4 linked regions of the Homo sapiens genome follow. Each later gene encodes a partner of the first gene's protein in a complex. Each region holds a gene or a part of one and is shown in the gene's direction. Other genes may lie near its edges. The genes, in order: RBL2, MYBL2, TFDP1 and LIN9.

Evidence for each region.
Region 2: RBL2 (region 1) and MYBL2 share a complex: the UniProt entries of both Homo sapiens proteins name them as parts of the DREAM complex.
Region 3: RBL2 (region 1) and TFDP1 share a complex: the UniProt entries of both Homo sapiens proteins name them as parts of the DREAM complex.
Region 4: RBL2 (region 1) and LIN9 share a complex: the UniProt entries of both Homo sapiens proteins name them as parts of the DREAM complex.

Annotation. Positions count from the first base shown.
Region 1 is NC_000016.10:53,465,471-53,472,935, forward strand, and holds part of RBL2 (retinoblastoma-like protein 2), read left to right. Parts: coding exon 1-132; intron 133-1,587; coding exon 1,588-1,699; intron 1,700-4,445; coding exon 4,446-4,715; intron 4,716-4,912; coding exon 4,913-5,193; intron 5,194-5,275; coding exon 5,276-5,452; intron 5,453-7,465. UniProt on the Homo sapiens protein: Key regulator of entry into cell division. Directly involved in heterochromatin formation by maintaining overall chromatin structure and, in particular, that of constitutive heterochromatin by stabilizing histone methylation.
Region 2 is NC_000020.11:43,662,684-43,670,476, forward strand, and holds the start of MYBL2 (myb-related protein B), read left to right. Parts: upstream 1-4,430; 5' UTR 4,431-4,600; coding exon 4,601-4,620; intron 4,621-7,793. UniProt on the Homo sapiens protein: Transcription factor involved in the regulation of cell survival, proliferation, and differentiation. Transactivates the expression of the CLU gene.
Region 3 is NC_000013.11:113,622,708-113,630,172, forward strand, and holds part of TFDP1 (transcription factor Dp-1), read left to right. Parts: intron 1-472; coding exon 473-579; intron 580-585; exon of another isoform or gene 586-2,054; coding exon of another isoform or gene 2,055-2,300; intron 2,301-2,796; coding exon of another isoform or gene 2,797-3,522; exon of another isoform or gene 3,523-7,465. Other genes in the region: uncharacterized protein LOC124903219, read left to right, coding at 2,055-2,300, 2,797-3,522. UniProt on the Homo sapiens protein: Can stimulate E2F-dependent transcription.
Region 4 is NC_000001.11:226,305,858-226,313,926, reverse strand, and holds the start of LIN9 (protein lin-9 homolog), read left to right. Parts: upstream 1-4,787; coding exon 4,788-4,818; exon of another isoform or gene 4,819-5,476; intron 5,477-8,069. UniProt on the Homo sapiens protein: Acts as a tumor suppressor. Inhibits DNA synthesis. Its ability to inhibit oncogenic transformation is mediated through its association with RB1. Plays a role in the expression of genes required for the G1/S transition.

The DNA of each region.
Region 1 (7,465 bases):
CTTTGTAGAGAGGTGGTAAAACACCTTAATCAGATTGAAGAACAGATCTTAGATCATTTGGCATGGAAACCAGAGTCTCCACTCTGGGAAAAAATTAGAGACAATGAAAACAGAGTTCCTACATGTGAAGAGGTTTGTGAAAATAACATCTTTTTATGAGAAAAATACATCAATATCTAATCTATTAATAATCCTTTTGGGGATGGGAGGGTGGCAATTAGGTTTAATATGTTATAATTACACCTTGTTATGAGAAAAATCTTGGACTGTAACGTCCCTCTCTACCCACAAATTGGGAAGGTGCCAAGAGACCAAAGAATGACTCAGACAAGTCCAGCTTGGTAAGTAGATAACGTTTATTAAGACTTACATATGGAGGAGGCAGAGGTGGTGGGGAAAAATAAAAGACTTATATACAGGGTACTCCTAGGTAGCAGCAGGACAGCTCTAGAGATCCTCGCCACCTCCCATCGCTAAGCTGCTTTTAAGCTAATTTTCTGGCTCTTTGCCTACTATGTGTGTGCACGATGGGACTGTTTTCCTTGGTAGTTTCTCAGATCTTCTCTGGGATGTTGGGGTTCTCAGGGACACCTGTTCCTTGGCTGGGCACCATGGCCTTGGCTCACTGCCTAGCCTTCAGGGTTTAGGCAGCAGACATACACCCTTAAGTAAGGTAGGTGACCTGTCACATTTCACCCCATGTCAAAGAGGAAACGAGTCAGATAATTTGTGGTTGTCCTAAGATTTTGGTGACAGAGTAAAAATTCAGTGTTCTTTCTTGATTTCCTTACCAAGTTTCTTTCCCATAGAGCAGTGGTCCAACCTTTTTGGCACCAAGGACCAGTTTCATGGAAGACAATTTTTCCATGGACAGGGTTGGGGGTTGGAGAGATTTTGGGATGATTCAACTGCCTTACATTTATTGCACACTTTATTTCTATTATTATTACGTGGTAATATATAATGAAATAATTATACAACTCACCAAAATGTAGAGTCAGTGGGAGCCCTGAGCTTGTTTTCCTGCAACTAGATGGTCCCATCTGGGGGCGGTGGGAGACAGTGACAGATCAGCAGGCATTAGATTCTCATAAGGAGCATGCAACCTAGATCCCTTATGTGTGCAGTTCACAATAGGGTTCACACTCCTGTGAGAATCTAATGCCACCACTAATCTGACAGGAGGCCAGCACAGGCGGCAATGTGAGCGATGGGGAGCAGCTTTAAATACAGATGAAGCTTTGCTCGCATGCTCACTTGCCTGCTGCTCACCTCCTGCTATGTTGCCCAGTTCCTAACAGGGTCCATGGCCCAGGGGTTGGGGACTCCTGCTTTAGAGTGGTTGATATTCAAACTCTCCAAACCAGTAATGAAGTTTGACTCATATTTAGTATCCAATTACAAGGTTTTGAATTTTTTGACTGCCAAAAGTTTTTTTTTTAACTTTATTATTAAAATGGGAAAGACAGCTGATTTTATTTAGATGGAATAATTGTTAAGATACTTTTTCTGCCTTAGATTACTATTGTATTTGTAATTAAAGTGCTTTTTTGGATACTGGCATTCTGTGTAACCAATTCTTCATAGGTCATGCCACCTCAGAACCTGGAAAGGGCAGATGAAATTTGCATTGCTGGCTCCCCTTTGACTCCCAGAAGGGTGACTGAAGTTCGTGCTGATACTGGAGGACTTGGAAGGAGTAAGTTTAAAATACTAGGAGAATATTTTGGGGCTTACTATCTGGAAATTTAAATTTCATCTAACCCTACAAGTGAAGTTAATAGGGTATACATAGAAGAAAATATTCTATGCATTTTTGTACCACATGGATCACTTAAAAGAAGGGCCTTTAAAGACTAAGAACACAGGAAAATGCATGATATAACAGGTATCTTTTAAAAAGGATAGACTGCTTTATTTATTTATTTATTTATTGAGACAGAGTCTTGCTCTGTCACTCAAGCTGGAGTGCAGTGGCCCAATCTCAGCTCACTGCAACCTCTGCCTGCCGGGTTCAAGCGATTCTCATGCCTCAGCCTCCTGAGTAGCTGGGACTACAGGCATGCGCCACCACGCCTAGCTAATTTTTGTATTTTTAGTAGAGAAGGGGTTTTGCCATATTGGCCAGGCTGGCCTTGAACTCCTGACCTCAAGTGATCCGCCTACCTCGTTCTCCCAAAGTGCTGGAATTACAGGCATGAGGCACCGTGCCCGGCTGACTGCTGTATATTTAATATGATCCCTATTTTTAAAGTGTATGTTTATTTATGAGCATACAAAATAGTGGAAATGGAAAAACCAAACTGTTAAGATCATTGTTGGGTGATAGAATTCCTGGTGATTTCTGTAAAATTTTTAAGGCAAATACATATTACTTTTAAAATCAGAAATAGAAAAGCCTTCTTAAAGATAGAGCTGCATGATCCAGTTAGGTATAGACAAGCCAGTGAGTTAAGACAACTGAGTATGTTCCACTTTGTTGAGCTGTGCTACCCTAGTTAATGTGACATTAGTGCTGGCCCAAGAAATACAGAAAAGGGCAGTTTTGCTATCTATCTGGTTTGTATTTTTTAGGCAGCTGCTTAGAAGATCTGCAAGGTGAAAGGTTTTAGTTTACATATGTGAGATAGAACTACTTTTTTAAAGAGCAATTCAGTAAATCCAGAGAGTTCTAAATCCTTGGATCCAATTAAAAGAATATTCTTATTTCTAGATCAGTTTTATAATGTAATTGATAAGAACTGGCTATAGAAGGAATACCAGTTTTAAAGTCAGGATTCACTCTAGGCTGGGCATGGTGGCTCATGCCTGTAATCCCAGCACTGTGGGAGACCTAGTGGGGAGGATCACTTGAGCCCCGGAGTTCAAGACCATCCTGGGCAACATAGCAAGATACCATCTCTACCCCCAACCCCCCCAAAAAAATCACTCTAAGTGTATACTTAATACACATGGATGATCCTTATGAAAAGTCCTCATTTTTGAAAGATCTGACAGCTGGTCTTTCTTAGTCTATTTTTGTAGAATTTTCCGTTCCCTAATCTACAGATTAGGAAGACTTGACTTTAAACTTCATTTTCTTTGTACTTACCACTTCTCAGTTTTCCTGAGATCTCTTGATATTTTATAAGAAAAAATGATCATAATCTATTCTTTCTGATTCTGCAGCTTTGTACCAAATACAAATCTAGTAAGTTTATTTACTTTTGTATCATCTGGAAATAGAAATGTTAAGCCACAGTTTGTTAGGATTTACTCCTATCAGTACTTCTTACAAACTTTCTATGTATATTTTAAATTTTAAAAACACTCTGATGCACAGCTCTTAGAAGTGGACACAGAAGAAGGAAGAAATGCTTCTCAAAAATTCAGACATTGGTGTGAATACTTAAAAATAGACTAAGCCATAATGGGTTGTGTACCACTGAATCATACACTTAAAAATGGTTGAATGGTAAATTTTATGTTATATATATAACCACAATTTTAAAAAACTAGCCTGTAATACCAGCATTTTGGGAGGCCAAGGCGGGTGGATCACCTGAGGTCAGGAGTTCGAGACCAGCCTGGCCAACATGGTGAGACCTCATCTCTACTAAAAATACAAAAATTAGCCATGCCTTGTGGCATATGCCTCTAATCCCAGTTACTTGGGAGGCTGAGGCACAAGAATCACTTAAACCCAGGAGGCAGAGGTTGTAGTGAGCCGAGATCAGGCTACTGCACTCCAGCCTGGGTGATAGAGTAAGACTCTGTCTCAAAAAATAAAAAAAATAGTAACAATTTGCCCCAAACCATTGAATTGTATAATTTAAGTAGATGAAATTTATGGTATATAAACTGTTTTAAAAAAATAAATTATGCTTAACTGAATCCAAATCATGCATGTCCACCTTGCTTAAGAACATTATTGAGTTTTAATAATTTTTTATATGTGGAAAAAGACAGAGATCAAAATTGATAAAACCGGTGGCGGAATGCTCCTAGATGACATACTACCAATCAGGTCCCCTTATCAAGTAGTGGCTCTGTAGTAAAATCACATCTTACATGAGTGGTAGGTAGAAAGTGGATATGATAGAAAATATTATAGAAAAATATAATATAGAAAAATAGGGTAATTCCTTAAATTGCCCCTAAATCATGAAGGTTCTTTAGTAGTGGAAGACAGAGTCAGGTCTGATTTGGGAAAGGGGGCGTGGAGAAAGGAACACTGCAAGACAAAAAATTCCGTTTTAAAATTTTGCTCTCAGTAGTGTTCACTGAACACGAATGAAAGTTCACTAATGAATATAGGTAAGATATGACTTCTGTAATTCTTGTTTGCTTTTTGAATTATGAAGTATTTCAAACACTGTAGTTATTTTTTAACATAAGAGCTTGGACGGAAGTCAGATCTGAGTCTCCTTGAGTTAAATGCTTTGTTTGATTTGTTTTGACCCTAGGCATAACATCTCCAACCACATTATACGATAGGTACAGCTCCCCACCAGCCAGCACTACCAGAAGGCGGCTATTTGTTGAGAATGATAGCCCCTCTGATGGAGGGACGCCTGGGCGCATGCCCCCACAGCCCCTAGTCAATGCTGTCCCTGTGCAGAATGTATCTGGGGAGACTGTTTCTGTCACACCAGTTCCTGGACAGACTTTGGTCACCATGGCAACCGCCACTGTCACAGCCAACAATGGGCAAACGGTAACCATTCCTGTGCAAGGTAAGGAAGGCAGAGTTGGATATTGAGTTCCTTCTCTGTGGCATGTATTGAAAAGTTACCCGAGGTTTGGCTAGAGTGACATAGGGGACAGAGGAGTGATGGGGAGAGAGGGTTTGGGAGAGCAGAAATTGTAAACCTCTGCCCGGAGAACCTCTTATTATCAACATTTTCTTCATGCTTTTTTTCTCTGTCACTAGGTATTGCCAATGAAAATGGAGGGATAACATTCTTCCCTGTCCAAGTCAATGTTGGGGGGCAGGCACAAGCTGTGACAGGCTCCATCCAGCCCCTCAGTGCTCAGGCCCTGGCTGGAAGTCTGAGCTCTCAACAGGTGACAGGAACAACTTTGCAAGTCCCTGGTCAAGTGGCCATTCAACAGATTTCCCCAGGTGGCCAACAGCAGAAGCAAGGCCAGTCTGTAACCAGCAGTAGTAATAGACCCAGGAAGACCAGCTCTTTATCGCTTTTCTTTAGAAAGGTAATTTTTCACATACCTTATCAGAGCATGAGCTTGGGAAATACAAGTGTTAAACAAAGTTTGAAATGTTTTTATCTCCTAGGTATACCATTTAGCAGCTGTCCGCCTTCGGGATCTCTGTGCCAAACTAGATATTTCAGATGAATTGAGGAAAAAAATCTGGACCTGCTTTGAATTCTCCATAATTCAGTGTCCTGAACTTATGATGGACAGACATCTGGACCAGTTATTAATGTGTGCCATTTATGTGATGGCAAAGGTGAGTACCATTTGGAATTGTAAAGGCAAAGATAGGTCTTCATTACTGAGAACATTTTTTAACCACTGTCTTGAGATACAGTTTACATGCTCTATAATTCACCTATTTAAAATGCACAACTAAATGGGTCTTAGTATATTCACAGATATGTGCAATACTCACCACAATTTTAGAACATAATATTCCATTGTATAGTTATATGAGAGTATTTTTATCCATTTATTAGCTAATGTATATTTTAGTTGTTTCTACTTTTGGCATATATGCATAATACCACTATTAGCATTTGTGTTTGGGTTTTTGTATAGACATGTATTTTCATTTCTCTAGGGTATATACCTAGGAATGGGCTGCTGGGTCATACATTAACTGTGTTTTAACTATTTAGGGAATTGCTAGATTGTTTTCCAAAGTACTGTACCATTTTACACTTACACAGCAGTATAATAAAGATTTTAGTTTCTCCACTATCTCATTAACACTTACTATCTTACTTTGTTTAAATAACTTATTGAGGAGAAATTCACATAACATAAAATTAATTGGGTTTTTCTTTTTTTTTTTGAGATGTTGTTTCATTCTTGTCACCCAGGCTGGAGTGCAGTGGTGCATCTCAGCTCACTGCAACCTCTGCCTCCCAGGTTCAAGCGATTCTCCTGTCGTAGCCTCCCGAGTAGCTGGGATTACAGCCATGTGCCACCATGCCTGGCTAATTTTTGCATTTTTAGTAGAGATGGGGTTTGACCATGTTGGCCAGGCAGGTCTCAAACTCCTGACCTCAGGTGATCTGCCCACCTCGGCCTCCCAAAGTGCTGGGATTACAGGCATGAGCCACTGGGCCCAGCCAAATTAACTATTTTAAGTTGAACAATTTAGGAGCATTTAGCACATTTACAGTACTAAGTGTAATAAATGGTTGTATACTCACCACCTCTGTCTAGTTCCAGAACATTTCCGTACCTGCAAAGTAAAACTCCTTTCCTATTAAGTAGTTTCTCCCCATTCTACCTCCCACAGCACCTGGCAACCAGCAGTTGGCATTCTGGCTGTATGGATTTATCTGTTCTTAATCGTTTATAGAAATGGTACAATATGTGACCTCTTGTGTATGGCTCCTTTTACTTAGGATAATATTTTCCAGGTTTACCCATGTTGCAGCATGTATCAGTACTTCATTCCTTTTTATGACTGAATGATATTCCATTGTATGGATAGGCACAATTTTTTTCTCCACTCATACACTGATGGATATTTGGGCTGTTTCCAACTGTTGGCTATAGTGAATAGCACTGTTGTGAACAGGTATATCATGTACCTGTTTGAGTGCCCATTTTCAGTCCTTTTGAGTTTATTCCTAGGAGTGGAACTGCAGGGTCATATGGTGATACTATGTTTAACTTTTTTGAAGAACCACCGTACCATTTTCCACAGAAGCTGCACCATTTGACATTGCTACCAGTAATGCACAAGAGTTCCAGTTTCTCCACATCCTTGCCAACTTATTATTTTTATTATAGCCATCTTAGCGGGTATTGGGTGATATATCATTGTGGTTTTGATTTTCATTTGCCTGATAACTAAGGATGTCAAGCATCTTTTCATGTGCTTACTGGCCATTTGCATATCTTATTTGGAGAAATATCTTTAAATCCTTTGCCCATTTTAAAATTATGTTATTATTGAGTTGTTGGAATTCTTTATTTTGGATACAACTACCTTCTCAGATGTATGATTTGCAAATATTTTCTCCCATTCGGTGTATCTTTTCACTTACTCGATAGTGTCATTTGAAGCATAAAAGTTTTTAATTTTGATGAAGTCCAGTTACCTGTTTTTTGGTTTGTTACTTGCACTTTGGGTGTCCTAAGAATCCATTACCAAACCCAAGGTCTTTTGATTTTTATAGTTTTATCTCATAGTTAGGTCTTTGATCAATTTTGAGTAATTTTTGTGTATGGTATGAGGTAGCAGTCCATTTCCATTCTGATTATGTGGTTGTGCAGTTGTCTCAGC
Region 2 (7,793 bases), on another chromosome or scaffold:
CCAGGCTGGTCTCAAAGTCCTGACCTCAAAGTAATTTGCCTGCCTTGGCCTTCTAAAGTGCTGGGATTACGGGCATGACCACTGTGCCCAGCCTGAATCTCTTTTGATGACCCATATTTTATGAGATACAATTCAAACTCTAGCATTCCCAGCTTTCTCACTTGAGGTCCAAGCCTTTCTAACTCTCCAGCCCAAATGTTAGCTTTGTAACATTGCATCCACTCAATTTAAATGGAATGTGTAGAACCCCTTCCATGAGTACCTACCAGAAGCCAAGCTATAGTAAAGGTCTGAAGCTTAAAATGTGCACAGGCTGTCCTTTCTCTTGAGAGAGAAATAAAATGGTGGAGGAAGTGTGATGAGGACAAGAATGATAAGGAGGATGCTCTGGAGGTGGAGGGGGAAGACTCCAGCCAGAAGGGCCATGTGATTCTACTTATCATCAATTAGTGTTTGGTGTCCAAGCTGGTGCTGAGCCCTGAGCATTTAATAAATTGATTTGACCCTTATCTTCCCAACACAGGGTCAGGCCTGGGGGTTGGGGCAAATTGTGGAATAACCAAATACCTGGAGCCTCCCTGTCCAAGGAGGGCGTGTTCAGGAAAAGTTTCCCAGCAGAGATAAATTCTGTATGTTACTAGTCCAGAGTCCAGGGACCACTCCCAGGTGTGGTTTCACTCGGGACACTGGGAATCCTCTCTCCAGGGGATATCTGTTGGTATGATGATAACTGGAGAGGAAATGTGTGGAGATCATCAGATTCCATCTGGCACTAGGGTGATCTCCCTGCTGCCTGACTCACAGCACTGACTCCAGGCTTCTTTGGCTCTGGGGCATTGGTTAACTGGCCCCAGTTCCAGGTTGCAAGTGCACTCTGCAGCTGTTCCCTGCCTCTTGCTTTGGGCAGATACCTTGCCCAAGCTGTCAGGTCCTGCCTCTCCCTGAAATGGGATGACTAATGTGTGGACCTCAAAGGATAAGAGTGAGGGCAGCTGAAGAATTACAGTAGTAATAATAGCTAACAGTAATATAGTTCTTTTTTTGCTGGGCGCGGTGGCTCACGCCTGTAATCCTAGCACTTTGGGAGGCCGAGGTGGGTGGATTGCCTGAGATCAGGAGTTTGAGACCAGCCTGGGGAACATGGTGAAACCCCGATCTCTATTAAAATACAAAAAATTAGCCAGGCGTGGCGGAGTGCTTCTGTAACCCCAGCTACTCGGGAGGCTGGGGTTATTGAGACGGAGTCTTGCTCTGTTGCCAAGGCTGGAGTGCAGTGGCACGATCTCAGCTCACTGCAACCTCCGCCTCCAGGTTCAAGTGATTCTCCTGCCTCAGCCTCCTGAGTAGCTGGAGTTACAGGTGCATGCCGCCACGCCCGGCTAATATTTTATATTTTTAGTAGAGATGGGGTTTCACCATGTTGGCCAAGCTGGTCTCAAACTCCTGACCTTAGGTGACTCACTCGCCTCAGCTTCCCAAACTGCTGGGATTACAGGCATGAGCCACTGTGCCCGGCCAATATAGCTCTCATTATGTGCCAGGAACTGTTTTTGGTGCTTTACACATATTAATTTATTTAATCCTATAATTACCTACAAAGTATAGTGATTAAGAGCATAGACTCTAGAACTAGACAGGCCAGGTTTGAATCCCTGCTCTGCCATTTACTAGCACTGTGACCTTGGGGAAGTCTGTGCCTCAGTTTTCCCATCTGCTAAAAGAGGATAATCCCAGTATCTACCTCATAGAGTTGTTACAAGGATTAAATGAGTTACAATTTATAAACAGAATGCTGGCTGGAAATATTAGCTGGGCATGGCGGCGTGCTCCTGTAACCCCAGTTACTTGGGAGGCTGATAGTTTAAAAACTATCTAAAATTTTGATAAATCCCATTTTTCCAGGTGAGAAAACTGAGGCACAGAAGAGTTAGGTAATTGGCTGGGCATGATGGCTCATGCCTGTAATCCCAGCACTTTGGGAGTCTGAGTCGGGTAGATCACCTGAGGTCAGAAGTTCAAGACCAGCCTGGCCAACATGATGAAAACCCATCTCTACAAAAATACAAAAAATAGCCAGGCATGCTGGCGCATTCCTGTAGTCCTAGCTACTCGAGAGGCTGAGGTGGGAGAATCATTTGAATCCGGGAAGTGGGGGTTGCAGTGAGCCAAGATCACACCACTGCACTCCAGTCTGGGCAATAAAGCAAGACTTGGTCTAAAAAAAAAAAAAAAGTTAAGTAATTTGCCTAAGATACCGCAACTGAATGGTGGAGCTGGGACTCAAACCCCAGGAAGTTTGGCTGTGGAGGCTGTGCTTTCAATGAAGTGGGCATGTCCACATTAATTACTTTATAAGGGGAGTGGGCGGGAGAAACCCTGAATTAAGTGATGTGGAAGCTTCTAGCACTTAAGATGTGAGTTAGTCTTCCTTCTGTGGTAAGTGAAGTTTGCAGCAGCTGGTGGCTGGACTGTCCCCAGGTGGCCAGCAGCTTCTGGAAGGGGGCTCTGAGGCCTGAACAGGGGCTAAAAGGCTGGGGTTTGATTTGGTTTCTTCAGCGTCCTGTCTCAGAGCTCATTTATCTTCCTCTCAGCACTGCTCCCAGGAAGTCCAGTGTGACTTGATCCTTGGTACTTGGTAAATGTCAATCTAATATAGAAAACCTTTGCTAAATCTCAAGGAAAGACAGTCTCACTGTCTGTCGCCCAGGCTGGAGTGCAGTGGCGGGATGACAAGGGCTTGAGCCCCTCGAACTCCTGGGCTCAAGCAATCCTCCTGCCTCTGCTTCCCAAGTAGCTGGGATTACAGGCATTCACCACCACAGCCAGGTAATTTCTTAATTTTTTGTAAAGACAGGGTCTCACTCTGATCCCCAGGCTGGTCTCAAACTTTTGGACTGAATCAGTTCTCCCACCTCGGCCTCCCAAACTGCTAGGATTACTGGCATGAGCCACTAAATCTGGGCTAATCTCTGGGAGTTTAAACCCAAGGTAAACAATTCAATGCAACAAACCTTTGCCTGGGGCTTCTTATGTCAGGTCTTCTACTGGGCCCTGGAGATACTGGTGTGCATTGAGAGGCCACCTGGACCTCAGGATGCTCCCAGTTCAAAGGGGGAAATGCAGAAGTCTACAGGCAGATTGTGGGCAGTGGACCCCAAATTAAATAGGAATCAGCCACGTGGGAGGGGCAGGAAGTGTTCCTGCCCTGGGTAATGGCTCAGGCAAAGGCAAAGAGGCCGTTTCTTTTGGCCAGGGCTGGGTGGTGGTCTGGAAGATCAGATAAATGTGATTGTGGAGTAAGGAATTTACCCTGAGGGAGAGGAGGATGGTTTTAAATTCTGGAAAGAGCTCACGCCTGCAATCCCAGCACTTTGGGAGGACAAAGCGGCAGGATCTCTTGAGCCCAGGAGTTTCTAGACCAGTCTAGGCAACAGCAACATAGCAAGACACCCCCTTCTCTTAAAAAAAAAAAAAAAAGCGCAGTGGCTCACTCCTGTAATTCCAGCACTTTGGGAGGCCGAGGCGGGCGGATCACGAGGTCAGGAGACCTATACCATCCTGGCCAACATGGTGAAACCTCGTCTCTACTAAAATACTAAAAAAAAAAAAAAAAAAAAAAAAAAATTGCCGGGCGTGGTGGTGTGCGCCTGTAGTTCCAGCTACTTGGGAGGCTGAGGCGGGGGAGTCGCTTGAACCCGGGAGGTGGAGGTTGCAGTGAGTCAAGATCGCGCCACTGCACTCCAGCCTGGCGACAAAGCGAGACACCGTCTCAAAAAAAAAAAAAAAAAAAATCAGCCGGGTGTAGTGGCGAGTGCCTGGTCTTAGCTACCCGTGAGTTGAGGTAGGAGGATCGCTTGAGCCTAGGAGGTGGAGGTTGCAGTGAGCTATGATCGCGAAACTGCACTCCAGCCTGGGCGACAGAGCAAGACCCTGCCTCTAAGAAAAATGAACAACAAAAAATAAAGTCTATTAAGGAGGGTCTCTTGGAGGCAGGAGAGGAAGCAGGGAGAGGCACAGGTAGGGTGAGGAGCCGCTTTAGGGTGCGGCTCTAGGGACCCAGTAGTGGCTTGGACTAGCGTGGGGGATTCCGCCCTGGCGCTTTCCCTGGCTGGCTCTCCCATGCTCGCGCCTCGCTCCCCTTCCTCGGTCTTCGCTATGTGGGATACTCCTGGGCCGCCCCGGACTGACACGTGAGCCAGGCCTCGGTCACATCCCGGCCCGCTCCACAACTCCGAAGTAGCGGCCGCCGCCCCTGTCCTGCAGCCGGCCCTGGAGGGTCTGGGCAGGTGCCGCCCCGCAGGCCCCGCCCCGCCCCGCCCCCTGGCTCCGCCCCTCACTCAGGCCCCTCCCCCGGCGCCCGCGCGCCAGGACTGGGCGGCGCCGACGCGCTTGGCGGGAGATAGAAAAGTGCTTCAACCCGCGCCGGCGGCGACTGCAGTTCCTGCGAGCGAGGAGCGCGGGACCTGCTGACACGCTGACGCCTTCGAGCGCGGCCCGGGGCCCGGAGCGGCCGGAGCAGCCCGGGTCCTGACCCCGGCCCGGCTCCCGCTCCGGGCTCTGCCGGCGGGCGGGCGAGCGCGGCGCGGTCCGGGCCGGGGGGATGTCTCGGCGGACGCGCTGGTGAGACGAGCCGGGAGGGCTTGGGCCCCTCCCCCTCCCTTTAACTCACCCCTCCCCCACCCAGATACCCCCGACCCTCCCCAGGCTCCCACCAAGCTGGGGTGTGTGTGTGTGTTGGGGGTGGGGTGTTTCCGCGGAAATGCTGCGTCCTGGGCCCTCTGAGGCAGGGGCGCGCGTAAAGCTGGGGGGCTCTTGGGCGTCCCTCGCGGCTCCCCAGGCCTGTTGGGCCTCGGAGCTGGGACGGGCGGGTCTCTTGGGACCCGGGCCAAGCCGTGCATGATGTCATTTTGTCTCCCGCCTAATTGCGGGATGGGGGTGGGCCGGCCGGTGTCAGCTGGCAGGGCCTTCGCCGGCGAGGGAGGCGACCCCTGGGAGCGAGAGGGAGTCTTCAAGTCCCAGCCAGTGGGAGACCGAGCCTGGGAGGCACTTGTTGCAGCCTAGTTTTGGGTCAACTTGGTGGGTGGGCTTTGCTCCTTAACATTCCGGGGAGCACAGAGTCCCCCAAGCCCTCTCCCCTGGACTGAGAAGGGTGCTGAGTTGGGGGCTCTTTTGTCTCTCCCACCTGGGTTCCGCGCCCCAGCTTGGTTCGGTTTGAGACCTCTCTTCCTGTTCCCACGAGGAGTTTTGGGCAGCTGGGGTTGAAGGTGCGGGGGAGAGAGAGAGTCCCTGGGGCAAAGGCAGGAACTGCGGTCTCCATTTTACTTATTTCCCCAGAGACTTAAGTGGCAGAGCTGAGCCCGGAGCCAGGTCTGTGGCTCCAGATCCCTGTCTTACACCTGTGCGCCTGGGGCCTGAGCTCCAAGCTTTTCAGCCTGCCTGGGAGACAGGACAGTGGGGTCCTGACCTCTTCCCTGCCTGGATCGCTGCAGCTCAGATAACCTTCGTTCCCTCTTTTTTTTTTTTTTTTTTTTTTTTGAGAAGGAGTCTCGCTCTGATGCCCAGGCTGGAGTGCAGTGGCGCGATCTTGGCTCACTGCAACCTCCGCCTCCCAGGTTCAAGCGATTCTCCTGCCTCAGCTTCCCGAGTAGCTGGGACTTCAGGCACGTGTCACCACGTCGGGCTAATTTTTTGTATGTTTAGTAGAGACAGGGTTTCACCATGTTAGCCAGGATGGTCTCGATCTCCTGACCTTGTGTTCCGCCCGACTCGGCCTCCCAAAGTGCTGGGATTACAGGCGTGAGCCACCTTGCCCGGCCAAACTTCGGTCCCTCTTTAGACGATAGCCTCATCTAAAGATGAAGCCTTCCATCCCTCTAGATTTTTGCCCTTTCAGGCTGAGGATAGGGATCTGAGCACAGGGACTGTGTTCCTCAGGCCCCACTTTCCCAGGCCAATGTCCAGGAAGAGTTTTCTGTTCAGGCGCCTATCAGACCCTGCCCTGGTTTTTTTTTTTTTTTTTTTTGAGGCAGGGTCTCCGTCTGCAGTCCAGGCCGGAGTGCTGTGGTGCTGTCATAGCTCACTGTAGCCCCAACCTCCCAGGTTCAAGTGATCTTCCCAACTCAGCCCGCTGGGACTGCAGGCTGAGTAGCTGGGACTATGGGCACGGGCCGCCACAACTGGCTAATTTATTTAATTATTTAGGAGACAGAGCCACTCTGTGTTGCCCAGGCTGGAGTGCAGTGGCACAATCTCGGCTCACTGCAGCCTCTGCCTCCCGGGTTCAAGGAATTCTGTCTCAGCCTCCCAAGTACCTGGGACTATGGGCACACGCCGCCACGCCTGGCTAATTTTTTGGATTTTTAGTAGAGATGGGTTTCACTGTGTTGCTCAGGCAATCCGCCTGCCTTGGCCTCACAGAGTGCTAGGATTACAGGCGTGAGCCACCGCGTCTGGCGTGTTTTATTTTGTGTAGAGATGGAAGGGGGCGGGAGTGGCCTCGCGTTGTGTCTCACCTCACTATGTTACCCAGGCTGGTCTCGAACTCCTGGCTTCCAGGGATTCTCCCCCACTTGGCCTCCCAAAGTGTCGGGATTACAGGTGTGAGCCACCTTGCCTGGCGCCATCCTGATTTTTTGTTCAGGAAGAGTTATTCCAGGAGTGACTGCCTCTAGACCACCCCAGGTCCTGGGCTACTTCTCCCATGAGGGGCTCAGTGGAGGAACCCCTCCTGTGTGAAGGATGGCAGCTCCACAGCCCTCAGCCCATTTCCTGGCCACTTGCTGTAACTCTCCTCTGCCCTAGTGCCCCACTTCCCGCTTTGTCTCTGACTCACCCCTGTCCTGGAGCAGAGCCCAGCACGTTGAAGGGCAAAAGGTAGGGTATGTTGGACCACAATGTGGTTGCCACCACTAACTGGACTCTGCTTTTTCAGCTGGGATTAGGATATGAGGACTTGCAGGTGTCTGGAGTTAGGAAGGTTCAGAGCCTGGCTCTATGAACTTGGCAGGTGGCCTCACCCCTCTGAGCCTCAATTTCCGCATCTGTTAAGGGGGATAATGAGAATGTGGGTGAAGTTGATGGCCAGCACATATGGTAAAGTATATCATCTCACAGAAATGCCCCAGCTGTCTGAGATGCTGACCCTATCAAACAGCATTGGAGGCTGGGTGTGGTAGCTCATGCCTGTAATCCCAGCACTTTGGGAGGCCAAGAGTTCAAGACCAGCTTGACCAATATGGTGAAACTCCTCGTCTCTACCAAAAATACAAAAATTAGCCGGGCGTGGTGGTAGGCGCCTGTAAGCGCGGCTATTCGGGAGGCTGAGGCAGGAGAATTCACTTGAACCCAGGAGGCAGAGGTTGCTGTGAGTCGAGATCATGCCACTGCACTTCAGCCTGGGTGACAAAGCGAGACTCTATCTCAAAATAAACAAACAAACAAACAAACAGCATTGGAGCACCAGGGAGTGTCCATGCAGACATCATTTCATCCTTGAAAGAATATTTGCTGACCTTCTGTTAGAAGCCAGGCCTTTGTGCTGGATGCTGGAGAAGCAAAGATGGTTTCTGTCACGAGCTGTCTGGGGGCAGTTGATTTTAAAGCCAACTTCATTCTGTTATTAGTATCTTCTGGATTTTTGCCTTCTATATTGAAGTGGTGGAGGACCCATGAACTGGGTCAGGAATGAATTCCAGATCCTTCTGTATTGCTGACTGTAGACACCGTCCCTCCTTTCCTATTTCTGAAAATTTTTTTCTTTTGAAATTGGGTCTTGCCTGGCCTAAAAAATTTAA
Region 3 (7,465 bases), on another chromosome or scaffold:
AGCCTCTGTGGAAGGCACACTCCTTCCTAGGAACAAATGTGGTTCTCCTTCCTAAGGAAAAGTGGATTATCAGATTTCCAAACTAGTTTTGCAGCCTTATAGAGAAATGTTGCGATAAAAATTCTAGTTTTAAAATTCTGTTCCATAATTGTCATAGAATCACAGACTTTTCCAGGCCGTGGTCCCCACCAGCACGTTCCATAGCAGACATCGCCGAGGGGCTGGAGCAGTGGATGATCTGCCTGGGTCACCTGGGTGGCGTCAGCGCGGCCCTGCGGCCCTCCCCTTACGGGTTTACATTGGGAATCAAGCTTCATGGAGGTGTTGCTCTTGAGCCCTGGATTTGAGACAGTACACGTGGGGAAAGCTAAGCATCTCTAATTGCAAGCACCGTCTTGCATTTAGAATGGTCGCTTGTAGCCTTAACTTAGAAAAGGAGTCTCGCCCTTGACCTGGTGTCCTTGTGTTGCAGGCGTGGTGTCCCTCGTGGCCGTTCACCCCTCCACCGTCAACCCGCTCGGGAAGCAGCTCTTGCCAAAAACCTTTGGACAGTCCAATGTCAACATTGCCCAGCAAGTGGTAAGCCTCCCGCAGGAGCGGACAGCCGGGATCTCGGTGTGAGGTCGGGATCGGATGAGCCGTGTGGTTGGGGATGTTCCCAGGTGTGCCTGGATTTGGGCTCCAGTTGCAGCATGGGGCCTTTCCCTCATCAGGGAGCCCGTGGCCAGTGCTAGATTTTCCATAGCCCTCTGCAGCTGCCCACGTGTTGTTGTGGGAGAGGTGATGGCGCCCACAGCACTCCTGTGTGCCCCAGCCCATGCCATCCTTCCAGTAACTGGAGGGTGGTGGGTGGGGCCGCGGCCCCAACCAGAGGCAGCTTCCTTTTAGTGTCAGAGCTCGAAGCTCTTCATCTAACAGGGGCTTCTTACGTGATGTGGCCGAGCGTTGGCTGTGGCCCTCCTGGAGACATCAGGCTGGGAAGCCAGAGAGGGATAGGGCCCTGGCCGTGGCTGTGCGTTTGCCCCGGGGCAGTGACAGGGCAGATGCTGCTCCCTTGGCCACGCACAGGAGAGGGGAAGGTGGGCATTGGGAAGTGGCGCATCCCCCCTCCCCAGGCTGATGCTGGCCAACTGATGCTGCTTCTCATAATGCTGTTTCCTGTCTCGTGTCCGCCCTCTGCGTCCTTGCCGGTGGCAGCCTACTGGAGACAGGGAGCCCACACAGAATCCTGACCTCACCAGAAATGGGGCCCCAGGCACTTGGTGGGCAGGTTTGGCTGTGACTGGAGCTGGTGGTGAGGGACATAGCCATCCCAAGGCTAGGCCGGGCTTCCAGTCCTTCCTCAGGGACTTGTTTATGGTGCCTGAGGGCTCCTTCCTGGTCCTGAGATGATGCTGTGGCCCCGCCTGGGCAGCTGCCCCAGCCCTGTTCCTGCCAACCCTGGGCTTTGGTGATGCAGCACCTCTTGCACCCCGGCCTCCTGGCCCACTCCACCCCCTCACCCTGCTCCGTCTGTGCTGTGGCCCAGTCCTCTTAAAAGGATTGAACACCTCCGGGTGGGATGAGAACCTGTCCGTTCACTGTCACCAGGTGTCTCTCAGGCATACCCAGGTGTCCTCACGTGTCTCTCGGGTGTCCTCAGGTGTCTCCCAGGCATCCTCACGTGTCCCCAGGTGTCCCCAAGTATCTCTCAGGCATCCCCAGGTGTCCTCACGTGTCTCTCAGGTGTCCTCAGGTATCTCTCACATGTCCCCACGTGTCTCTCAGGGTGTCTCTCAGGTGTCCTCAGGTGTCTCTCAGGGTGTCTCTCACGTGTCCTCAGGTGTCTCTCAGGGTATCTCTCACGTGTCCTCAGGTGTCTCTCAGGGTATCTCTCACATGTCCTCAGGTGTGTCTCAGGGTATCTCTCACATGTCTTCAGGTGTCTCTCAGGGTGTCTCTCACATGTCCTCAGGTGTCTCTCAGGGTATCTCTCACATGTCCTCAGGTGTCTCTCAGGGTATCTCTCACATGTCCTCACGTGTCTCTCAGGTGTCTCTCAGGATATCTCTCACATGTCCTCAGGTGTCTCTCAGGGTATCTCTCACATGTCCTCAGGTGTTTCTCAGGTGTCTCTCACGTGTCCTCAGGTGTTTCTCAGGTGTCTCTCACGTGTCCTCAGGTGTTTCTCAGGTGTCTCTCACGTGTCCTCCGGTGTCTCTCACTTGTCCTCAGGTGTTTCTCAGGTGTCTCTCACATGTCCCCAGGTGTCTCTCAGGGTATCTCTCACATGTCCTCAGGTGTCTCTCACGTGTCCTCAGGTGTCTCTCACGTGTCCTCAGGTGTTTCTCAGGTGTCTCTCACGTGTCCTCAGGTGTCTCTCACGTGTCCTCAGGTGTCTCTCACGTGTCCTCAGGTGTCTCTCACGTGTCCTCAGGTGTCTCTCAGGTGTCTCTCACGTGTCCTCAGGTGTCTCTCAGGTGTCTCTCACGTGTCCTCAGGTGTCTCTCACTTGTCCTCAGCTGTTTCTCAGGTGTCTCTCACATGTCCCCAGGTGTCTCTCAGGGTATCTCTCACATGTCCTCAGGTGTCTCTCACGTGTCCTCAGGTGTCTCTCACGTGTCCTCACGTGTTTCTCAGGCGTCTCTCACGTGTCCTCAGGCGTCTCTCACGTGTCCTCAGGCGTCTCTCACGTGTCCTCAGGCGTCTCACGTGTCCTCAGGTGTCTCTCACGTGTCCTCAGGTGTCTCTCACATGTCCTCAGGTGTCTCTCACGTGTCCTCAGGTGTTTCTCAGGTGTCTCTCACGTGTTCTCAGGTGTCTCTCACGTGTCCTCAGGTGTTTCTCAGGTGTCTCTCACGTGTCCTCAGGTGTCTCTCACGTGTCCTCAGGTGTTTCTCAGGTGTCTCTCACGTGTCTTCAGGCGTCTCTCACGTGTCCTCAGGCGTCTCTCACGTGTCCTCAGGCGTCTCTCACGTGTCCTCAGGCGTCTCTCACGTGTCCTCAGGTGTCTCTCAGGCGTCTCTCACATGTCTTCAGGCGTCTCTCACGTGTCCTCAGGCGTCTCTCACGTGTCCTCAGGCGTCTCTCACGTGTCCTCAGGCGTCTCTCACGTGTCCTCAGGTGTCTCACGCGTCCTCAGGTGTCTCACGCGTCCTCAGGTGTCTCTCACGCGTCCTCAGGTGTCTCTCACGCGTCCTCAGGTGTCTCTCACATGTCCTCAGGTGTCTCTCACGTGTCCTCAGGTGTTTCTCAGGCGTCTCTCACGTGTCCTCAGGCGTCTCTCACGTGTCCTCAGGTGTCTCTCACGTGTCCTCAGGTGTCTCTCACGTGTCCTCAGGTGTCTCTCACGCGTCCTCAGGTGTCTCTCACATGTCCTCAGGTGTCTCTCACGTGTCCTCAGGTGTTTCTCAGGTGTCTCTCACGTGTCCTCAGGTGTCTCTCACGTGTCCTCAGGTGTCTCTCAGGTGTCCCCAGGTGTCTCTCATGGATCCCCAGGCATCCTCAGGTGTCCCTGGCCCTGTGGAGAGCTCTCTGTACTGAGCTGTTTTTTGTTGTCTAGGGCATCTCCCTTTGGTCTAATCATGTTTTCTTCAGAGAACATGACCACATACCAGGGATATTTTGGTCATTTTTGCACTTTAGTCTTTATTTTATATGCATTCCTGCTATTTCCGTTTATTTAAATATGCTTGAAATTCTCTGGATTCTTTAACAGATGTTAGGATATGAGTTTTAAGAGAGAGTGGCTTGTGGGTCACAGCCTTGAGGATCTGAGCAGGATTGCCTTCCCCGCGCTCCCTTCCCCGCGTCCCACTTCCCTGCGCCCCGCTTCCCCGCAGCCCCCCTCCCCGTGTGTGCTCCCACACAGCTGTCCTGATTGAGCGGTTCCAGATCCCAGGCAGCTTTTGTGGCCCCGTTTCCTGCCTGTGGAAGGTGACAAAAAACTTGCTCTGCAGAAGTTTTGTGGCCATTGAAAGTAGCGGTTTGTGGAAGCCCTACCACGTCATACGGCTTTTCAACCACGTTGCACAGCAGATCACGGCTTTTCAGTAAATGCCATTTTGATAAAAGCTAAAAATTCAGTTTTTGTTTTGCTTGATAATTAGATTATAGGTTTGCTTATAAGTTGACTAGGAATTCTAAGTTTGATTTTATAGGTGCTGTGTGTCATAGCAGAGTTTGTCTGGGTGAATAATTGTAGCACCACTTTCGTCTTTACTGCCGGTGTGAATACACTGGGGGGAAACGAATGAGAAGATTATCTTATTGATGTGCTTTAAACTTCGTCACTGAAAGTCAAGTTCCTGATTTAAATTCAGCTGTTCGGGTGGAGTTTGTCATTGCTGTTTTGTGCTTTGCAAAATCCCAGTGATGGGAATTAAAGCTGACAAAGGGCAAATGTTTCTTAAACCTTTTTATATACCAGAGGTTTACAAAAAACTGGACTGGCTCATTCTGACACGAGGGGTGGGGCTCAGTCCGGGCATGTGAGTGAAAGCGGTGGGGAGGTCCTTAGGTCTCTGACCTGCACCAGTCAGCAGGCGCAGGGCTTGTCAAGGTCAGGGTCTTTTGAGGTGCGGATGCTTGTGAAGCCTGTGGTGCTGCAGAGCTCAGCACGCGCACAGGAACGTGTGCGGGACAGAGGACATATGTGCTCAGCCGGCAGGAGCAGCGGCCTGTGTGAGCCCCTGGGGAGAAGCAGCCCCCCACCCAGGCCTGTGTCCCAGAAGTCGGCATCTGTGGTCGCAGTGGCCTTTCCTTTGCAGCTGCGCCACTGGCCCTGTCTCTCTGGACACCGCGGTTAACCTTGGTCCATCTCTAGGATTCTGTGTCTGAGTGGGGTCACACTACACGGAGACATCGTAATCTCAGTTTTTAGAGTGTGTGAAATTAAGGTGCAAAAAGTGTGCACTTAGGGCAGAAGGGATGCCTTAAATCAGGAGTCCCCAACCCCTGGGCCTGTTAGGAAGCTGGCCGCACAGCCGCCTGAGCCCTGCCTCCTGTCAGATCCCAGCATTAGGTTCTCAGGAGCGCAAACCCCACTGTGAACGGCACATGCAGGATCTAGGTGGCACTCCGTATGAGAATCGAATGCCTGATGATCTGAGGTGGGACAGTTTCTTCCCGAAACTACCCCCGACTCCGGTCTGTGGAAAAACTGTCTTCCACAAAACTGGTCCCTGATACCAAAAAGGTGGGGGATCGCTGCTTTAAACACCAAGGCTCACTGTGCAGCCAGTGAGGAGGGGAGCTCCTGGGGGAGGAGGGTTGGTCTCGGGCAAGGTGGACCTCCGGCAGGTCCTCTACTGTGGGATGCTTCCACCTGGAGCTGTTTTCTAACGACTGCTGGCGTGGAAGCTGCAAAAGCTTTAGAGTCGAAAGACTGTGTCTGAAGCCGTGTAAAGACTGTCTGGAGCCGTGTAAAGACTGTGTCTGAAGCTGTGTAAAGACTATGTCTGGAGCCGTGTAAAGACTGTGTCTGAAGCCGTGTAAAGACTGTGTCTGAAGCCGTGTAAAGACTGTCTGGAGCCGTGTAAAGACTGTCTGGAGCCGTGTAGAGACTGTGTCTGAAGCCGTGTAAAGACTGTGTCTGGAGCCGTGTAAAGACTGTGTCTGGAGCCATGTAGACTGTGTCTGAAGCCATGTCATTTACTTTCTCTGAAGCGCAGCTTGGATTCCAGCCGTGAGCACAGTAGGAAGGGAGACCCCTTATGACCTGTGGGGCCTGGGTCACCTCCCCTGCTCCCCAGCGAGAGGCGGGTGAGGGAGTCGTGAGGGCGGAGCCCATCCTCCAGAGAAGCCGCTGTTAAATCTAAGGGGTGGGTGTCCCTGGCGCCTTTCAGCCCCTGCCTGCCTCCTGCTCCCAGAGGCTCCTGGATCTCCTGGAAAGCCCTGGTTGGAGTGGGACCCACAGCCTCCCAGCTTTGGGCAGTACCCCTCATTGTGCTGTGACCACTTCTCCCTTCCAGGGTCTCTGCCCACCACTCCAGCTAGCGTGGCCACTGCTTCCAATACCTCCTTTTTTTCCCTAGGGGCCCAGCTCTGAACTATCCTTCCCGGCACTGTCCCATCCACCCTTTGGCACCTCCTTGGTTCCTGTTTTCCCTGCGCTTCTGCCCACACACGCCCTCCAGGGCTTCAGTGTGTTGCCGTGCCTCCTCTGGCTGTTGAGTGTGGCTCCTGGTGTAGGGAAGTGAGGCCGGGGGCCTGCTCCATGTCTGTTGAATGGGAGACTGGAAGGCGTCCTGTGGCACAGGCGGCCGGCCCGAGTTCACCGGCTTCCTGTGCACCAGGAAGGAAACGCACACACCTGTGCCAGGTCCGGGAGCAAAGCCTCTGTCTCGTTCCTGGGAGGGCTGGCTCCAGGCCGCCCCTGTGATGCTGACTCAGCTCACAGGGCTGGTGAGCAGCAGGTGATGGGTGAGGAGCAGGGACAGTGCTGCGGAGACACAGTGAGGGGAGCTGCCACGCAGGGCACGCAGAGGAAGGTGCAGGCACCCTTGCCCAGCACTGCATGGGCCGGATGCCGCGGGGCCTTCCGCAGGGAGCAGTTAAAGCAGGAGAGTAAGGAGAGCTTCCTGTAAGACCTGGCCTCCGTAAACAACGCATTCCCAGTGCACTGGTGGCTCGTTCTCAGGGTGCCCCTGGGTGCTGAGTCCTGTCTTCCAGGAAAGGTTGTTGGTGAGCACCATTGAGCACCTGGTGTGTACCTGCCTCTGGCTTTCTCTTCTTCCCAACTTACAGTGGGTTTGACCTGTGATTTTGACTTTAAGATGGTCCAAAAGCAACATGCATTCAGTGGAAACTGCTTCCACTGCCCATACGACCGTCCTATTTTTCATTTTGAGTGTGGTATTCAGTGGGTCTCCTGGGATACCCACACTTGACTAGAGTGGGCTTTGTGTGAGATGCTTCTGCCCGACTGGGCTAACATGCGTGATCTGAGCACGTGTAAGGTAGGCTGGCTAAGCTGTGATGTGTGGTAGGAGAGGTGGATGACGTGCATTTCGACTTAGGGTATTTTCAGCTCATGCGGGTTTATCGGGATGTTCCTTGTAAGTTCCTCGTTGTAAGTCAGTTCCTCGTTGTAAGTCCACTCTTTGTGAGTAGGTTTGCTCCTGCCTGGAGGACAGCGGCACGGTGACGGCATCTGTTTTGGGGCCAAGATCCAGTGCCTTGCGTGGTCCTGGGATTCCTGGGGAAGGGAGTGGACCCATGAGGTGGGTTAGAATCGTGTGTGGGATTCTCCAGCCCCCTGTACCTGTGCGTGTGGTATGCGCGGAGCCAGCCAGCACTGCCTGGCGTGGAGCTGGCGGGTTCTCAGTCTGACATCAACTCCCGGAGAATGGCATCTGCTGAACTCAACGTAGGAAGCCGTGCGGGGCCAGCGCGCTCTCAGGCAGCCTGAGTGGCAGGGTCCTTTTGTCAGCTGTTTGGATCTCCCACGTGGCCCAGTGCCCCAGCAGCACACACACACACACAC
Region 4 (8,069 bases), on another chromosome or scaffold:
ACTGTTGCTTAATCTAAGGTCATGAAGATTTACACCTATGTTTTCTTTTAGGAATTTTTATGGTTTAGCTTTTACATTTAGGTCTTTGGTTCATTATGAGTTTCACATTTGTATTGTATATGATTTTTTAAAAAGCTTTGTTATAGTTTTCATTAGAGTAGTGTAACATACTAAACTCCACTAAACTTGGATGTTATACATAATATCTAGCACATGTAGAGAATTTTATCTTTTATTATCTCAATTTTATGGACATGCATCCTCACATTGTGATCTAGGTAGGGCAGTGTAGTTATATTCACTCCCCAAATGGGAAAGACGAAGGCAGAAAGGTTCAATGACTTGTCCGAGATCATGGTGCTCACTAGAGGTAAAGCAAGGCTTAGAACCCATGTCTTCTGCTCTCACTCCTCACGCCTGTTTCCACTGCTCTGAACATGTTCAGGGAGATGATTCTGAAGGGAATTACCAGGATGGCCACTGGGCACATTTTTGAGAATATTTATGTTGTAAAAGAGGGATTCTCATCAAGGAAGGATACCAACAGTCACTGGAGATCTTGGTAGGCACTTAATTTACAATATGTAATTTAATCTTCATGATAACCCTTCAAGAAAGGGAGAAGAAAACTAAAAACTACTACTGAGAGTAATTTGTTCAAGAATACACACAAGGGAAGTAGGTGAACTGCAATTTGAACCTAGATCCTGGGGCCATCAGTACTCCTGGTGTACTTGGATGCTGGAAGAGGAAATGCTGAGTGTGGAGTCCTACCAGCAACATAACTTAAAAATATATATATTTATAGGCTGGAGAGCCTTTTTACCTCATTATGGCTGAGATACTCAAGCAAGGCAAACTGAATTGTCTTTGTTTTTTCATTACTAACTCAAATTCCCAACTTTATCAAAAGTATTTATAAAAACATTCACACACATACTATACACACACACGCTTTTTTTTTTTTTTTTTTTTTTTTTGAGACGGAGTCTCACCCTGTCACCCAGGCTGGAGTGCAGTGGTGTGATCTCAGCTCACTGCAGTCTTCACCTCCTAGGTTCAAGCAATTCTCCTGCCTCAGCCTTCCAAGTAGCTTGAATTACAGGCACAAGCCACCACGCCTGGCTAGTTTTGTATTTTTAGTAGAGACTGGGTTTCACCATGTTGGTCAGGCTGGTCTCAAACCCCTGATCTCAGGTGCTCAGGCGATCCACCTGCCTCAGCCTCCCAAAGTGCTGGGATTACAGGTGTGAGCCACTGCACCAGGCCCCCAACACACACATTTTATCTTTAGTCATTGCAACTGTTTTCACAAAAATAATCCAACCCAATAATTGATAAATAGGCCACAGGACTAGAAATGGTCAAACCTGGTATTTCTAAAACGTGGCCATGTTTATTTTTCTTATGGTATTTTTAAAATTTTTTAGAATTTTTGTGGGTACATAGTAGGTGGATATATTTATGATGGTACATGAGATGTTTCTTATGGTGTATTTTTATTTAGGTTTTTCATGACTTAATGACCTTATCCACACCGTGGTTTGTTTTTTTTAAAAAGCAAACACCACACACAGTCATGTCATTTTAAATTGGAATAAGTGATTGCAGGAAACTTAATACCCCTGTGTTGCATGTTGCTATGGTTTGAATGATGGTATTCCCTCCAAAATTCAGTTGTAACATAATCCCCAATGCAACAGTATTAAGTGGTGTGGCCTCTGGGAGGTGATTAAGTCATGAGGGTTCTGCTCTCGTGAATGGGGTTAGCACCCTTATGAAAGGGCTCAAGACTGAAGGAGGTGTTCTCTTGCCTTTCTGTCCCTTCTACCATGTGAGGACACAGCATGCATCCCCTCCAGAGGATGGAGCAACGAGCCACCATCTTGGAAACAGAGAGCTGCCCTCACCAGACACCAACATTGGCACCTTGATCTTGGACTTCCCAGCGTTTGAAACTGTGAGAAATAAATTCTTGTTGTCGGCTGGGCACGGTGGCTCATGCCTGTAATCCCAGCACTTTGGGAGGCTGAGGCAGGTAGATCACTTGAGATCAGGAGTTCAAGACCAGCCTGGCCAAACTGGTGAAACCCTGTCTCTACTAAGAACACAAAAATTAGCCAGGAGTGGTGGCAGGCACCTGTAATCCCAGCTACTCTGGAGGCAGAGGCAGGAGAATCGCTTGAACCCAGGAGGCAGAGGTTGCAGTGAGCCGAGATCACACCATTGTACTCCAGCGTGGGTGACAAGAGCAAAACTCCATCTCAAAAAAAAAAAAAAAAATTCTTGTTGTCTATAAATTACCCAGTCTCAGATGTTTTGTTATAGCAGCACAAATGGACAAAGACATACGTGTAATCCTCCCATCACAGAGGGAGTCACTGAGGCACCGAAAAGTGGGCTAGATTCCTGATTCTAGCACTTGCTTGCCATTGTCTTTGGACAAATTACCAGGTTGTTGGGAGAATCAAGTAAGCCAATCATTGTAAAACCTGTCATAAATATTCAATAACGAAACTTATTGAAGAGTTAGGTGTGCCTTGGCTTCGATCACACAGCTAAGCGCTAGATCTGGGGCTAGGATACAGCTTCAGGCTTTGGATTTATGAGAAGAGTCAAAGTTTTTGTTTAAAATGCAGATTATCAGGCAAGGGCCTAAAAACATTGATTTAAACAGTAGTTGTGTTGTTGCGTGTACATGAAAACTGCCTCAGAATAAAACCAGGTTTGCCTTGGTCTAATGACACCTTGACTATCATGACATTCACAAAGCTTTTGCTTCTCCCACTCTGGTAACCTCTCATGTTTTTTTAATTTCTATTCTTCCATTCTTAAAGGGCTGACCTTTTCTTGATCTCATCTCCAAATTGATACTGAAGTGCAAGCTGCTGAAGCACCCCCTAGGTGCTGACAACAAGGACCAGTGTTTTAATCTTCTTAGGGAGCAGATCAGAGTGTGTTTAGAAGGCAAAGGAGAGGTTAAGCTAGCTCTGAAGGAAGGATTACTTTGTAAAATTGAACTTTCACCCTCCCTGCTCACTCCCTGCTCTCCCTCCTACCTTAGCATGGCAGCACCCAGTTACCCAAGGCACAGAGCTGGCATCAGCAATGAGACTTCCTTCTCCTCACACCCAGTGACTCACCCAATCCTTTATTTTCCACGTCTTGAAAGGTGGAGTGCATGCTGCCACCTCTCTCTAATACTGCCTATGCTGTGGTAATGGTGGTAATAGTGGCTAGCTGATGGGTGCTAGCAGCTAGTATAAGGTCCTTACATCTATCAAATCGTTTAGCCCTCAAAATAACCCTGTTATTTGCATTTTACAGATAAGAAACTGAGGCACAGAGAATTCGGTTAAGAAACCAACGTGCCTGAGATTATACAACTAGCAGCCCATCTGGATTCTTCCCATCGAGGCCCTGGGGCTCCAGAGCCCACCCGCTGCACCTCTCTAGCTACCAGTGCAGGCATCTCTCTTCTGTCCTTTGCATGCCCCAAATAAGCTTCTTCCTGACTGGTTTCTAGGCTCTCATCTTGTCCCCCACCAATCCATTTCCCATATTTTTGTTCTAAAACACAAATAGAAACGTGCCCCTCTTACACCCGACTTTTCCACTGCTCCAGTGGACTAAGCAAGTTCAACTCCTTAGCCTGGGCGGGCCTCTGTGTACCACTCTGTCACCTTAGTCTACCGCCTTTTAACTTTGTAGTTCCTGGAATTCACCCACGTTGTCTTTTGACTGCTTAACGGTCTCATTCCTCCAACCCCCATAAATTCCTGGAGAAAAGGATTGGAGCTCAATGACATTCGTTAAATGAATTTTTGAAAAGCAACAGTGTTTTATTACTGGAAAGTGTTACAGACAGATATTGTGAAATTTTTCCTTGGGCTTCTTTCAATTTCGTTCAATTCTCGTCCAGTATTCTCATAACATTTGGATCAGGTACTTTATCACCTTGTAGTGTCACTGTTCCTTTCTGTATCCTCTCGAAGCCTCCTGTTACTCGTTTTCTAATTCTCTTCCAGCCCACTGCACGATCTAGTGTCGAATGGATGAAACAGCTGAGCAGAACAGTTCTTTAGCTGTCGGCCTAAATGACCAACTTCATGACCTCTCAAGGTCTCGCTCCCCGGCTGCACGCAGCTCAGCTTCCAACATTCGGGAAAGGCGTGCCCGGATCGCGAGGGGCCGCTGGGACCGAGTCCCGGACGTCGCGACGCGCAGGGGGCTGCTGCGGCCGGCGGTCTCGGGAAAAGTGAGGGGACGGAGGCGCCCAAGCAACGTGGGTTTCGGGAACTGTGAGTATTTCACTTTGCGTAGAGCCCCCTCGGGCAATGCGACCCAGAACCGAGGGCTTCTTTCCCCCCGCCGGGGCCTCCCTCCCGTTCTCCACTCGGAACAAACAGCCTGCAGTTCCCGCAGCTGCAGCGCGGGCCGCGGAACATGCGCCGGGAGCGGGGCCCGGGCGGGACTCCGGAGCTGGTACTGCTCCCCCCGCGCTCCGGCGCCGGGCCTCGCCGTGCGGCCTCCTTCCTCCCTTCCTCCCGCCCGGCTCGGCCGGAGGCGGCGGCGGAGGGGCGAGGCGCGGCCCCCCTTCGGCGGCACCTCCTCCCCGGGCAGGCGCGGGCGGAGCCGGGCCCGCCTCAGCCAGCCGCGGCGGGAGCAGCGCAGCGCGGCGCCGCGGGCAGCGAGCTCCGCATTCGAACCTCCCTCGCAAAGACAGTCTCCGCCCCACAATGCACCGCGGCGGGCAGCCTTTGAAAAAGCGGCGCGGCTCGTTCAAGATGGCGGAGCTCGACCAGTTGCCTGACGAGAGTGAGTAGCACCTCAAAGCACCCCCCCCTTTTCCCGCCTGCTGCTTGCCCAGCGGTTGCACCGGCCGGGACGGACGGCCGTGCCCTCCGCTGGGCAGGTGGGCTGACTGCCAGCCCCACTGTGGTCCCCTAGTCCTCCCACTCCGGTGTTGCCGCCGCGTCGCCGCCTTTGTTATGGTGTCTGTGTGTTGGTTTCTGGGGTTGTGTGAGCGCCAGGGCCGGAAACCGAGAGCCCGGGAGTCCAGCCTGTGCCAGGCGGAGGCGGTGGCTGCTCCCCTGGCGCCACTCCGGCCCCCAGCCGAGGTGGAGGGAAGAGCGGCCCCTGGGCGCGGGGGCTGTCCTCGCCGCCTGCACCACTCGCCCGGCGCCGAGAGACGCCCGCCGGGGTTATGTAACTCGCCTGTCCCGGGGCCGGGGGAGGGCTCGGGCTGGGCACGGGGTGGTCCACGGCCCCTTCTTCTTGCCCCAGCCTCTGATCTTGTCCTGTCACAGCTCCTGCCTCTACGGGCACTTGTGATCTTCACTGTCCTCCCCACCCCCCCACCGGTGTGTCCACCCCTGGAAGTGTTTCCGTGTCAGAGGGTTGGCCCCTTCCCCTGGGACCACAGGTGGCTGTGGACCTTTCCTGAGATCATCCAGCCCGGATACTCAGTGTTCAGGTAGACCCCGTCCCGCAGACTTTATTCTATATGTGTCTTAAGAGCCATAAAGGTACCTTTATGCATGGATGTGACCAACACAGCGTACGTGTACCCTGCCTGACACCCACCCTAGGGCATTGCCTCCCCTAACCATGTTTACTCACCCTGACATCTAAGACATGTATGCTCACTTGTGTTGAGTAAGTAAAAGCACCAATTCCATAGTTTAAGGGCAATGGAACTTAATTTTGTAATTTACAATATTGCATAAATTATATGAAAAGACAAATATGTTATTTAATTACAAAAAAAAGTCCTGAATCCACTTTCACTATTCAGTTTATACATATTTGTGAAAGGCTCAATTACTATTGAATCTTATCTATGCACAAGGCAAATGGACTTAAAAATGAGGACTCAACATACTACCGATTCCATTTTCTTTGTGAGGTCATGTGTTCTTAGTAAGTTATAAAGTTAAAAATTCAAGTTGCCAAGCTGGTGAAAAGTCGTATTAAAAGTGTTTGTGTTTTAAATTTGATAGAGAGCAGCACTAAGTCCCCAAGGAACTTTGTCCATGATAGAACTGTTCTCTTTTGTGATGTCCAGTAGGGCAGCCAAGCTACTAGCCATATGTAGCCATGGAACATTTCAAATGTGGCTAGAGTGATGGAGGAACTGAATTTTGAATTTTATTTAATTTTAACTTGCATAGTCACATGTAGCTAGTAGTCACTGTATTGGGTAGGGCACAGCTATTGACCAGTCATGAGCTGTACTGTTTATTTGTAGAATACAATTGATTGTGATTTATTTTATTTATTTATTTATTTTGAGATGGAGTTTCACTCATTGCCCAGGCTGGGGTGCAATGGTACTATCTCGGCTCATTGCAACCTCTGCCTCCCAGGTTCAAGCGATTCTCCTACCTCAGCCTCCCGAATAGCTGGGGTTACAGGCATGTGCCACCACGCCTGCCTAATTTTTTTGTATTTTTAGTAGAGATGGGGGTTTCTCCATGTTGGTCAGGCTGGTCTCGAACTCCCGACCTCAGGTGATCCACCCGCCTCGGCCTCCCAAAGTGCTGGGATTACAGGCGTGAGCCACCGCAGCTGGTCTTGATTGTGACTTAGAATGCTCCCAAATGAGTGTGGACCTACTAAGCACAGTGTACTTGTCATCCGAAAATGTTTTTCATCATCCTTGGTATCTTTATCATAAACATGTCTTATCACCTCTTGGATGTCACAATCACTAGAGCTACTGTTTTGGTTACTGTAGTCATTCTGTTGTAATGAGAGGCATTTTAAGTGGCTTTCTTACAACTGCCATTAGGAATATTTGCTTCATATCATCCAGCATTTATTGAGAATTTACTGTGGTTCTTTGTAGGGACTTGGGATTTATATTAGGGTTCAAATTCCAGCTCCACTTTCAAATTATATAACCTAATCATTTATATTACTTTGTGACATCTCTGGTGCATTGGTGTGTATTTGTGAAGCGTATGTCTTGTTTAGGTAGACTTCAGCTTTGTTGAAACCAGGGATTTTCTTTCTTTCTTTGTCATACAGTGCCACAAATCAAGTATACATAAATAATTTTTATGGAATTAGTGCAAAGTAACAGGTATTATTACTGAAACTAGAGCAGGGTCTTGAAAAGGAAAAGCGATTTCAATTTGATACTGGAAATAGCAGTATGTTTTTTGGCCACATTTAGTCAAGGAGGCTAGCTAATATATTGTTCAGGAGTCGATATAACATTATCAATAATGAAAGCTACCATTTATTGAGTATTTACTATGAACCAGATGCCATGCAAAGGATATTACATGTATTTGCTCATTTAATCTTCATTTCAGTTGATGTAAGTGCTCACATTTTATATAAGGAAATTAAGGCTATCTTCAGCCCAGATCTTTCCTGAGCTCCCTTTCTTGATATCTCTTGCCTGTTTCACATTTCTTCTTAGATGCTTCAAAGGCCCCTCAAACTGCACAGGTTTAAAATCCACCTCAGTCCTACCCCAGGACAGATACTTCTAGTGATTCGAATGGTTCCACTGTGCATTCAGCTGGCAGGGCAGAAACCTAGAGATTTTCTTTGGCACTTCCCTCTCTTTCTTTTCTTTTGTTTTTTTTTTGAGACAGAGTCTTGCTGTGTCACCTAGGCTGGAGTGCAGTGTGCGATCTCAGCTCACTGCAGCCTCCGCCTCCCGGGTTCAAGCCATTCTCCTGCCTCGGCCTCCTGAGTAGCTGGGTTTACAGGCGCCCGCCACCACACCTGGCTAATTCTTGTATTTTTAGTAGAGGCGGGGTTTCACCATGTTGGCTAGGCTGGTCTCAAACTCCTGACCTCAGGTGATGCACCCGCCTCAACCTCCCAAAGTGCTGGGATTACAGGGGTGAGCCACCGCGCCCCCAGCCACTTTCCTCCCTTTCACTTCCCATATTTAAGCCTTTACTAAGTCTGTAAATTTTACCTTCTAAATATCTATCAATTCTACCCATTTCTTACCATCAGCATAGCCCAAACTGTTACCATTTCTTCTCTTTACCAATTACCTCAGCCTCTCATTAATTCAGCCCCCTTCCCACAAACACACAGCG